4 separate regions of the Homo sapiens genome follow, and all the other regions are linked to region 1. The links come from fine-mapping of genetic effects on gene expression. A gene starts in region 1. Each other region holds a variant in brackets. All regions are shown on one strand. Distances are between the middles of the regions.

Region 1 (2,679 bases):
CTGGCGACAGAGTGAGACTCTGCCTCAAAAAAAAAAAATCTTTTGTAAAATGAGAAGGGCCTTTGCTGTACTTCTAGCCTCCAGGAGCCACTATCCCTGCCATGCTCTACCCATCCATTGGCACAAGCTACAAATGAGTAAAGACCCCAGAGATGACAGATTCAAGGGATTCTGGGTATGGGGTGTGGCCCTAGGCCCAGAACTGTATGCCTTAAGCTGGAACCAGGTACCCGCCCCCAGCATCCCCCTGACCCCCACCATGCCACCTATATCAGCATGCCAGGTCTCCAGGGAGCCTATAGTCTGAGGTGGCTAGATGGCTGGCCCGCCCTCTGCCCAGGAACCAGGGGTGGGTTGGCCCAGGGCCTGTCCCTTTCAACACGGGACCAGCGACTCGTCAGGAGTCTATCAGCAGCCTCCTGAGGCTCCACAGGTGCAGTGGGCATCAGCCTTGTCCTCTGGCCAGCCCTGGGAGGCTCACACCACTCCAGCCCAGACAGGCAGGGGCCACAGGGAAGAAGCAGTCCCACCCAAGCCTTGGTGGGGTCTCAGCTTCCAGCAAAGGGAAACAGATCCATTCCAGTCAGAGGAGCTTCACATGGAAGGGGCAGCCAAGCTGAACAAGAGATCCCCTTTGGGCCTGAACACATGGGTCCAGCCAGAATCCCAGAGTCAGGAGTCACCCCTTCCCTGCTTCCGGATACAGCATCTCTAGCCATAGTGACTCCACCCCTTGCTCACTGGGACACTCAAAGCTTAGCTAGGCTACGCCTCAGTTTCCCCATCTGTGAAGTAGGGAGGACCACAAGCCTGACCTTACAGGACAGTATGACGATGAAACATGTTGCTGAGCATAGGAAGCTTAGCAGGGGCGCTAGACATAGCTTCACTCACAGGCTTCCGCTGTGGACCCTCCAGGATACCCCAGGCCTCAGTGAGGGCTCACTGACCTTCAGGGCACACTTCTGTCCAGTGCGCCGATGGAAGCACTCCAGCACTTTGCCGTTCACACCCAGGCCCAGCACCTGCTTGGACAACTGGTAGTCGTCGGTCACTGCGTACTTCTTGGGCTCCCGCCGCCCCCCCGGAGCACCGCCCAAGCCGGGTCCGCCGGGTGCAACTGGCGGGGGCACAGGGCCCCCCTGCTCCTCTGCTGTTTCACCATCCATGGCCCCCGCGGGGCGCTCAGAGGCGGCCCCAGCCTGGCGCTTCTAGTGGCACCTGGGGGAAAGGGGAAGAGTGAGTCCCGCCCAGACTTTTCCAACACACCCCAGCCTTGGAGCCTCTGAACTGGGCTGGGCTGCGAGCCCGGGGCAAGCTGGGAGTGCGGGACGAACGGCCTGAGAGTACAGACGTGCAGCAAGGGGCGGTGGTCGCGCGGCGGGGTACAAGCGAGCACCGCCCGGGCACGTGTCAAGAAGGGAAGGGGCCGGGCGCCTAATGGCCGCGAGGTCCCCGGAGGAGGCCGCAGAGGGGGCCCAGCGAGGGCGTACCTGGCGGCAACGCACCTTGCTGAGGTACCGGCGAGGGGCAGGAGAGGCGGTCGCGGGAGCTGGCGGCCGCAGAAATCCCAGGGCCGAGAGTCGCGCTGCCGGCGCCCACGTGACCTCCCCCCCCTCCCCACCCCCCCCTCCCCCACTCCCCCACTCCACCCCCCGCTCCCTGCGCGTCATCCCAACTTGGGGCCCCGCTAGGTCAGCCTTAAAGGGCCAGGCGGGCCCCGGCTGGGTCCCGCCCCCGAGCCGGAACAAAATAGGAGGCGTGGCTTCCCGAGGGGGCGGTTACTTCCTCGGTTTCCAGGGACACCCAGGGAGGCCCCTGTACTGGCAGTCCGCTACTGTGCGGGTCCCGGGTTTTACTCGCAACCTAGAACGTGACAGCGCAGGACGTCTTATTTCTCTTGAAAGCTCTCCTTGAGTCGGGTGTTTGCTCTGCACGCTGCCAGGTGGCCCTCCAGTATGGCTTGCTAGGCTTCCGACTTGCCTAGTGTTGGCCAACCCTCAGCGTACTCAACTTTTTAAACATGCCGAGGGAGGTGGCATCTTGTCGTTGTTGAATTCGCCACTCTTTAGTCTCTGGTGGCTCTGGGAGTCTCCAGCACTGGCGACTGCCCCCTTTTTGCAGCTCCCGCTTATGCCCTTGACTCGCTGCTTCCCTTTGGTATATACAGCATCCTGGGGACCAGAAATCCCGAGTTGCCATTTGATCAGATCCGCCAACATTTCACCTTATGGTTTGGGCTTTTGGCGTCGTGTTTAAAAAGTCTCTGTCTCCCATCCGAGTGACAGATATTCTCCATTAGCTTTCTAGTTTTGCCTTGCACATATAAGTCTCTGTTAAGCCCATCTTAGACTACCTTACGTATTTTGAGCCAGTTTTCCCAACACCGGCTGTTAAGCAACTCTCATTTCACAGATGAGGAAACTGGGACCCCTGGGGAGAAAACAACTTGTCTAGAGCCATAGGGAGGGTGGCTGTGGCTGTCTTCTGGGACAGATCTGAACTACTTGCGCACATCACATCACTCCCCCAATCCGGAAGCTGAGGGACCTGAGCGAGCTGGCTCACTTGGAACTGGGAAGGTGCGGCTCAGCGCAGGGGCTCTGCATGGGCCTCTGCTGTCATCTACAGGCCATCTACAGGACTGCAGGTACCAGGACCTCGGTTCCACTCAGAGGC
Region 2 (2,679 bases), 25 kb before region 1:
TCAGGGGAGAAGGCCCTGGTTGCTCAGACCCCAGACCCCAGGAGCTGCACAGGGGCAATCTTCCTGTGTCCCAGGAGTAGCCAGGGGCCTGGCAGATGAGGGCAGTAGGGAGGTCTGTCCCTGAAACTGGTTTTTAATGAATGGTAGGTAGGATGTAGGCCCATGGAGAGGGGCAGAAGAGACCCCCAAGCAGAGCCGGGGTAGAAGGATGGGGTGTTGGTAGAAGGATGGGGTGGTGGTTTAGAACCAATGGATGCTATTTCTCAGGTTCCATTTGAGAAGATCTGACCTTCTCAATTGTGATAAAAACAGAGAAGCAGTTTTAGTCTATTCAAGGGAATCTCCTCTGCAGAAGGCTTTTCTCTCTTCGGGAAAAAAAAGCCAGGGTCCAAATAAAGCAAGGATTTACAGGTTGGGGTGCTCAGCCAGAGGGAGGACCTTATGCAGCAGCTGTAACCTCAGCTCGCCTCTGCCCAGTCTGAGGAGGAAATAAGCCAAGGAAGGTAACGTTCTAGGCTTGGGGCAGAGGGCCCAGGAGGAGCAGACTCTGCTCTGATAGTGCTCACACATGCTTGTGTGCACATGCATGTGTGTGCTGCCTTGGTTTGCATTTCATCCATCTGATCCAGATGACCTCTAAGACCCAGTCCTCCCAGGATAGGAAATTTGGAGAGCTGAGCTTCCAGCCTCAAGACTGGAAGGTGGCCCAACAACTGGCACTACCTCTGTTCCTTCCTCCAGGGCTCAGCAAATGGCTTCTTTCCCTTAAAATGCTGGTATCAGGGGGCCTGATCTGTCAAAGCTATGGCTGTGACTTCACAAAAGCCGCAACAGGGCCAGGTGGAATGGCTCACGCCTGTAATCCCAGCACTTTTCGAGGCCGAGGCGGGCGGATTACCTAAGGTCAGGAGTTCAAGACCAACCTGCCTAACATGGTGAAACCCCATCTCTACGAAAAATACAAAAATTAGCCAGGTGTGGTGGTGTGCGCCTGTAGTCCCAGCTACTTGGGAGGCTGAGGCAGGAGAAT[C/T]GCTTAAACCTGGGAGGCGGAAGCTGCAGTGAGCCGAGATTGCGCCACTGCACTCCAGCCTAGGTGACAGAGTGAGACTCTGTCTCAAAAAAACAGAACAAAATAAAACAAAACAAAAAAAACCAACAGCATCAGGCAGCCCCTGCCTGAGGCCTGGCACATTGCATCCACACAAAATTTCTTGCTGAACAAGTAAACAAATGAATGAATGAATCCCAGTGCAGCAACTACACAGCCCCTGGGCAAGTCACTTAATGTTTTTCTGAGCCTTGTTTTCCTCATCTGTAAAATGGGTAATGGCACTTATCTCACAAGGCTGGGTGAGAATGAAATGAGATTGCTTGTCAGGGCCCGCTGGCTTTAGGCAGGCAGTCAGTTATTCTTATTACTATTTGGATTACTCAGTGTTTGAAAGAAGCAAGGGGACCCACCTGGTGAGAACAGAATGAGTATGCTGAAACTAGAGAAGAGGCTGAGAAAAGCAGTCTGGGACACAGAGCAGAGGCTTTGAATGTGACTAGGGAACATGGCCTCCATCCAGTGGGTCCTGGATGCCATCAGGGATTGTGGAGTGGGACAATATCCTCTTCCCCGGGCCCCCAACCTGAATCCTGGAGCCTCACCTTGACATCTCGGTGGGCAATGTTATGGCTGTGCAGAAACTGGATGGCAGTGCCAATATCCCGCATTATCTCTGCAGCTTCTGCAGAAACAGAGGAGGAGGGGGTCAGTGATGCCAGTCAAAGGTCAAGCCCCCACCCTATCATCCCTCCTGGACACAGTCTAACAGGCCAGCACAAGACAAGAAGACAGTGACAGCACTCCTGCTATCCAGGTTCTCTATCCCGGGATGTCTACGCCACCCCAGACACCCCAGTTTCCTCCGAGGATACCCCCAACCCATCTAAACTTCTTTCCTCAGTCCTGAGCTACCTCTCCCCAGCTCAACTGCGAGACAGCATCAAGAGGCTTTGAGGCCTCCATCCCAAAGCCATAGAGAGTCCAAGTTCGACAAAGTGTCTCAGACTCAGAGAGTCCCTTGTGGGGATGGACACTGAGTCTCACCCTTTCTTATTCAGATGGGAAGACTGAGAGGAACAGGGTCTTGCCTAGCATCACACACAACGCTCTGGTCCATACCTCTCACCCTGAATCCTCCTGCTGGTCCAGCTACATGCACATACCTCTCTCAGTGAAAGCCTGGTCGCCACGCTCCTGAATCCTGCTGAACAACTCACCACCTTCCATGCTGTAAAAGAGGTGACTATAAGCAGAGAGGGGGAAACTGCACATCATCCTACCCTTGCCCCTGCCCCAAATCATAGGCCCAGGCTTCAGACCCTGCTGCTCCGCTCCTCCCCTACTGAACAGCCACTGTCAGCCTCCCTGTCCCTTGTAGAACCTGGTGCATGGTGGGTTGTCAGCTTAGGTGGGTTGAACTGAACTCTTGGAACTAGAAGAGGGTGGTGGGCTCTGATCCCTGCCAAGAAGCCTGTGTGTTCCCAGTGGCACGGCCCCTACCTGACTGTGAGGGCTTGGGTACTCCCAACCCCATTCAAGTCTCTGTTTCCCCAAATGTGGGATGAGATGTTAATTATCATCATATGACCACTGTTCTCTGGGCACCTACTGTGTGCCATGCCCTGGGA
Region 3 (2,679 bases), 31 kb before region 1:
AATCACTAGTGGGTCTGAGAAGCTGCCCTTGGGCCACCTTTGTCCACCCCTGTAGACAAAGAGTAAACCCAGGAGCCAAGAGAAAATGATGAAATGGTGTTTATTACTATCTGGATGTAAAACCCAGCAGTGTTGTCCTATCTGACATGGTCTAGGGTTTCCCAGCCAGTGAGAGAGGGGCCAGGAAGGAACTAGGCTGCGTGTCAGGCACTTGTCAGGCAGTATCAGGCACTCAGCACCCTAAGGCTACCATGGTGGGGTGGGGCTGGTAAGCTCTGATCAGCCAGGAAAGGCCCTCTCTGCCCTACTCAGGCCCAAGCCAGGACCAGACATTCTGAGCATGGCTCAGTCGCCTTCCCCAACCTCAGGTCTGACCCAGAGTAAAGAAAGAGACCTCAGGTTAATGGGAAGCCACTTAGCTCTGCTCCCAACCAGCCACTTTCACACAAGTATACCAAAAGATAGCCCCTGACTTCAACAGAGAGGGGCTTTCCTGCCTGAGATCTGGTGAGCAGATGGGTGCAGGGAAAGTATGCTGGCTTTTGTCACAGTGACATTTTCCAAAGTGGAAAAAAGTTAAAAATATCTCCCACCTTAAGTTCAGATGAAAAGTCACCCTTTGGGTCGGGAATAGTGAGGGGATGGCTAGGCCCAGGGACTCCCTCAGGGGAGAGCGCTGAGTGCCATCTGGGCTGGGGCTGCAGCAAGGCAGGGCTGGACTGCACAGGGAGGCAGGCAGACCGGATCCAGCAGCCTCAGGGCCCAAGGAGGAGTGAGAATGAGAGGGCCAGCCAGTGTGTGAGAAATCAGCCTCCCCAAGGCAGAGGTGAACCCTCAATCGCCCCTCCTCCCTTACTCGCTCACTCAGCATTCACAGGCAGCAACGTGGTCCCTGGTCACCATGGCAACCAATGGCCAATGCCTTTCTCAAGGCCAGGCCCATCTGCCCATCCCACAGGGAGATGTCTCTGTGGAAGATGGGAAGCCCAGCCACAACTCCCAGTGGCCTAGAAAGCTAAGGCCATGCACCAGGGCAGGACAGCACAGAGGCCTCACTCGGGCCAACCTAGCTAAAGGTGCTGCTATGGCAGCAGGCAGCTCCCAGCCCCTAGGCCCTGCCCATCTCTAGGGCTTGAGCCTGGGCCAGAGATCTGAAGGAGGTTTAGGGTCAGGGTCCTCCATCCTGAAGTTCCGAGTGACAAATTAAAACACAACAAAATAATCCTTT[TG/G]TTAAAAGAATGACCCTGGGCCCTCCTGGCCAGGGCCTGAGCACATTTCAGTCTGTTATGCAGGCTGAGAGGCCAGGCTCCTCCAAGGCCCCATGAGCTACTGGTTGTTGCAGCCCTGTGAGGCAGAGGAGCTGCCTGCCTGCTTTTTTCTCCTCTTGTTGAGGAGCCGGTTGTTAGAGGTCTTCAGGTCCTTGATCTTCACCTGGTCGTAGTCTACCCGCATAGTGGCCAAGGCACTGGTCATCTCCTCCTGGGGACAGACAGGATGGTGGGCACTAAGAGGTCAGGATGTACTGACCTTAGGAACCATCACCCCCCTGCCTGGGCAGCCCCTTAATGTCAGTGACAGCCTGTGCTGCCTCTGTGCCCACTGTGTGCCCAGCACTGGGCCAAGCCCTTTGCATCACATGATCCTCACTACCGTCCTCTGTGGTAGACACTGAGCTTATTCACTAAGGCACAAAAGGAGAGTTACTCCCTCGGACCACACCAAGGGTAAGTGGGATAGTGAACTAAACCAGTTCCACCACAGAACCACAAGACCTGCAGAGAATGCCATCTCGCTGGGCAACCAGCGCACTGGGGCCTGGAGATTGTGCCACTGGAGCTGCTACTCCATATGTTCAAACGTGGCCTCTGCTGGGTCTAAACCAGGCTGACCACCCTCCCAAATGTTGTTGGTTATAAGAGAGGTCATCATCCAAGCTTGGTACCAAAGCCCCGTTTCATTGAGGAAGTGAGCCAGGAGCACCACACTGAATGGCGTAGTGAGGCCCAATCCTTGGAGTGCCATGGTTGGACCACTGCGACAGTCACTGACACCCTGTGCTCCAGGTATAGAAAGGGGCCAAAGACCCCAGACCCTGGGTAGCCACCCCCCTGAAGTCCCTTTTGCCCAAATCCTGGCACCTGTATTGAGACTGAGGCAGAGCCCACCCACCTTGACTTCGTCCCAGTGGTCTTTGTCCTCCTGCAGCACTCGGGCCGTGTGGAGTGGGGTCTGTGGCACTACCATCGATTGCTGGAAGGAGCCCCACGCCCGTGGATTAGAAACTGGAGGCACCTGGGACAGCACTGGTTCCCCCTACTCCATCCTCTTCTCCCAGACTCAGATGGAAAAACCAAGGCTCAGGGTGGGGAAGGAGCCTCACTAGGGCAGTGACAAAGCCAGGTTGTAGGTGAGGCCCTAGTATCTACCTGTGTGCATGGGCCCATTCCAGCCCTGCACTGGGGCCTCAAAGCAGAGCCACCACCCTCCTGCCCGGCAGCCCCACTCCTGTTGGACACCCTGCCTGCCATGGGAGGAGGAGGGGCTCACGTTGATCCAGGGGTGGTTCATGAACTGAGTGATGGTCAGCCTCTCTGTGGGGTCTGTCTTCAACAGGAGGCGGATCAGCTGCTTGGCTAGGGGGGCCAGGGAAGAGAGGGGAGAGATGAGATTGCAGAGCCA
Region 4 (2,679 bases), 120 kb after region 1:
TCTTTCCACCTCTCCCGACCTCACTCCCTTTCCCTGCAACGTGCAGTTGGTCAGATGGCTTCTGGGCCTGCACGAGTCTCCTCTAGAAGGCCGATGTGAGAACCTGACCAGAGTAGGCACCTATCCCTCTGTCCCCAGCCAGAAGATGGCGAGGCGGGTGTGACGGCAGCGACACACTTCCAGCTGGACGCTGTTGTCGATATAGTTGGAGCTAATTTGGGGGTTTGGGACATGTCTTGCAAACTGTAATTAGAGAATGAGGGTGGGGGTGGGGTGGGGGCTGTGCCGCTCTGAGGGTCCAGGGGGAGGTGACTAATGGTACAACAACACAGAGGGTTTGCTGTGACAGCCAGTGCCCTTCAGCTGCCCTGGTCCCGCAGACGAGGATGCACATTGATCCTTGGAGGGAGGAAGGGGCCCACACATGACCATGGCCAGTGGAATTGGTGCTTTTGTTGAACTGGTAAGAAAGGTTTAGGCTGTTGTTCGGGCCAGAAGGTTCTGTGGGGCTGCTCAGGGATGGGTGACCTCCCAGAACCTTCTGCTGGGTCAGTGTGGCCAGGCTGGGATGACACTTTGATACAGGTGGATTTCCAAGGAGGAGAGTGGAACCCAGCTTCATGGCACTGGAGTGACAACCCCTCAGTGGGGAAGGCCCCTGATGAGCAAGTCATTTTCTCATTAGTGTCTGCCAGTGCACAGGGGCCCAGCTTCACAAGCTGCTGGATTTTAAGCAAGTGTGGGTTTGGGGTCTGCTAGCTATGATTTCTGCAATCGCTCTGGCAGCATGGCTCTCTGCCCACCAGGCAAAATGGACCAAGGCTGCTGCTGGATTGAGAAGGGCAGAGGGGTTACTGCTGAAGGGAGGACAGGGCTTCAGGGTTTTTTTTTGGGCGGGGGGTGGGGGGGTTGGGCTGTCTCACCTTACCTGGACCTGGATCAGAGTTTCAAACAAGGAGGAGGCTACATGTTTGCACACATGTATGCACATGTATGTGCACTTGTCCGGCTGGGTGTGGGGGACCTGAGTCCGAGCACACCTTTCACCTGCCTCCTTTTTCCAGTTATGCCCTCCCCAGCATCAGGCCACCACCGCCGGCTGAGGGGCAGCCCTCACTGCTTTGCCTCCCCTTGTGTCTTTCCCTCCCTCTTCCCCTGTCCCCCTTCTTCAGGTCTTTCATCGAGCTGTACCTATCCTTCCCTGCCCGCCTCTTTTGTCCTCTCTGCTGGGCCTCTGTGCCCTGTTCTCCAGTGCCCCCAGGTTTCTCTGTCCCCTCCTCTGTGGAGTCCTGGCTGAGTGCTGGGTGGAGCACCCGGCTGAGCTGGCCCACCTGACTGCACCCTCTTAGCCCAGCTCTGCTCCAGCGATGGTGTTGGCCAGCGTCTCCCTTCCTCTGAGGGTGGG[C/GC]AGAAGCAGTGAGGGGCCTGAGGGGTTTGGACCACCAGCAGATTAATGACAACCAGAGTACGTGCTCCTCTCCTGAGTGGACACATGGGGAGCAGTGCCTACAACAGGGCATGCGTCAGTGTAGCTACGGTTAATGGTGGGTGACGTGTGTCTGTCTGGGCCTTCCAGCCCCTGTCTCCATCTCCCTGTGGCTCTCCCTGTTGGAGGGAGGCAGCATCACTCATCTGGGTCCCCCATCTTCCCAAAAACCTGCCTCAGCTTTTGCAGGAGGGAGGGATGAGGCTTCCCAGCCGCTGCTGCTGTCACCGAGATGCAGAGCTGCCAGGTGCTCACAGCCCTCCTGGTGTGGAGGACTTTGGGGGGACCCTTGGCTGCTGTTCCCCTGGACTCCATCTTTATCAGGCACCTCCTTTTGGTCAGCTGTGCCAGGTTAACCCCTGAGAAAGGAGGAAACTCATTTTAGGATGAGTCCCCTCGTAGTCTGCAGGTGAATCTCACTCCAGATTCTTTGTCACACTCATGTCCCCATGGAGAGACTGACTCCAGAGTAAAGCTGGCCTCTAAGTGGACTTCTGCAGAAAGTATCCCCTTCTCCTCCTGCCTGTGTGCAGGTGGGCACTGCCAGCTCCTGGCATCTCAGATGTGTATGGGTGGACACTGCCAGCTCCTGGGAGGATGTAGTTTGGGGACATGCTGGGTGTCAGGTGTAGACTTTGCAGGCTCCATTGGGATGACCTTGCCTTAGTTTCCACAATTGAAATGATAGAATCTGCTTAAGAGGCTGGTGGTGAGAATTAACGGGAGAGGATGCCGCCTCTAGTGGGCAGGGAGGGCTCCGTCAGGTGCCATGGCTGCCACTGTTAACATTAGCATTAAGCCCAGATGTTGCAGCCGGGCGGTAGCCAGTCTTACTGCGAGACCCACCAGTCTCCAGGGCTCCCACGGGCTAGGTGGCCGCCTGTCTCTCTACTTTGCTCATGCTGCCCTGCCATGACTGTGCTCTTTTCTCAGGTTTAGATCCCCTCCTTCAAGGTCTCACACCCGAACCTTCCAGAGGCCTTCCCATCCCAGCTCTGGGCTGTGCCACTCTCTCAGGCTGTGCCCACCCACATCAGATTCTACCTCCTTGAGGAAGACATTGGGCCACCTCCCTCCCTCACTCCCTGCAACACAGCTTGACTGTGGTGGGGGACGTCTCCAGGCTAATGGTGATCTCCCTTACTGAGCCCAGGCCAGACCCCTCACCCACATTAGTGCCTTGACCTCAGAGCCCG

Which allele goes with the higher level. Positions count from the first base shown, and alleles are read on the strand shown. Sizes are in standard deviations (SD) of each study's normalised expression. Not every link is listed here.
As copies of GC replace C in region 4, the expression in monocytes of the gene that starts at base 1,584 in region 1 goes down (moderate effect, 0.72 SD a copy in Schmiedel 2018).

What was found. PIP is the estimated chance that this variant, and not a neighbour inherited with it, causes the effect. A credible set is the group of variants that fine-mapping cannot tell apart.
Region 2: its variant is the best candidate, but not a certain one, in a credible set for the expression of MAPKAPK3 in whole blood (TOPMed, PIP 0.90).
Region 3: its variant is the best candidate, but not a certain one, in a credible set for the expression of MAPKAPK3 in whole blood (INTERVAL, PIP 0.53).
Region 4: its variant is the best candidate, but not a certain one, in a credible set for the expression of MAPKAPK3 in monocytes (Schmiedel 2018, PIP 0.59).

What each region holds. Positions count from the first base shown.
Region 1 is chr3:50,616,056-50,618,734 of GRCh38, reverse strand. MAPKAPK3 (MAPK activated protein kinase 3) reads right to left here and starts at 1,584. Exons shown (of 11, transcript NM_001243925.2): 1 at 1,494-1,584; 2 at 951-1,221. The coding sequence starts at 1,169. RefSeq lists enhancers at 1-910, 911-1,864 and silencers at 1,131-1,280, 1,531-1,580, 1,591-1,640.
Region 2 is chr3:50,641,307-50,643,985 of GRCh38, reverse strand. It overlaps MAPKAPK3 (MAPK activated protein kinase 3), which reads right to left. Exons shown (of 11, transcript NM_001243925.2): 4 at 2,215-2,279; 5 at 1,654-1,733. Among named protein-coding and RNA genes, the nearest start is that of MAPKAPK3, 25 kb to the right of the region's middle. The variant C/T (reference allele first, on the strand shown) is at 1,031.
Region 3 is chr3:50,646,694-50,649,372 of GRCh38, reverse strand. MAPKAPK3 (MAPK activated protein kinase 3) reads right to left here. Exons shown (of 11, transcript NM_001243925.2): 9 at 2,548-2,633; 10 at 2,170-2,250; 11 at 82-1,479. The coding sequence ends at 1,327. Among named protein-coding and RNA genes, the nearest start is that of LINC02019, 21 kb to the left of the region's middle. RefSeq lists enhancers at 1-304, 1,796-2,295. The variant TG/G (reference allele first, on the strand shown) is at 1,229.
Region 4 is chr3:50,498,978-50,501,656 of GRCh38, reverse strand. The region is part of intron 1 of CACNA2D2 (calcium voltage-gated channel auxiliary subunit alpha2delta 2); the gene reads left to right. Among named protein-coding and RNA genes, the nearest start is that of CACNA2D2, 3.3 kb to the left of the region's middle. The variant C/GC (reference allele first, on the strand shown) is at 1,406.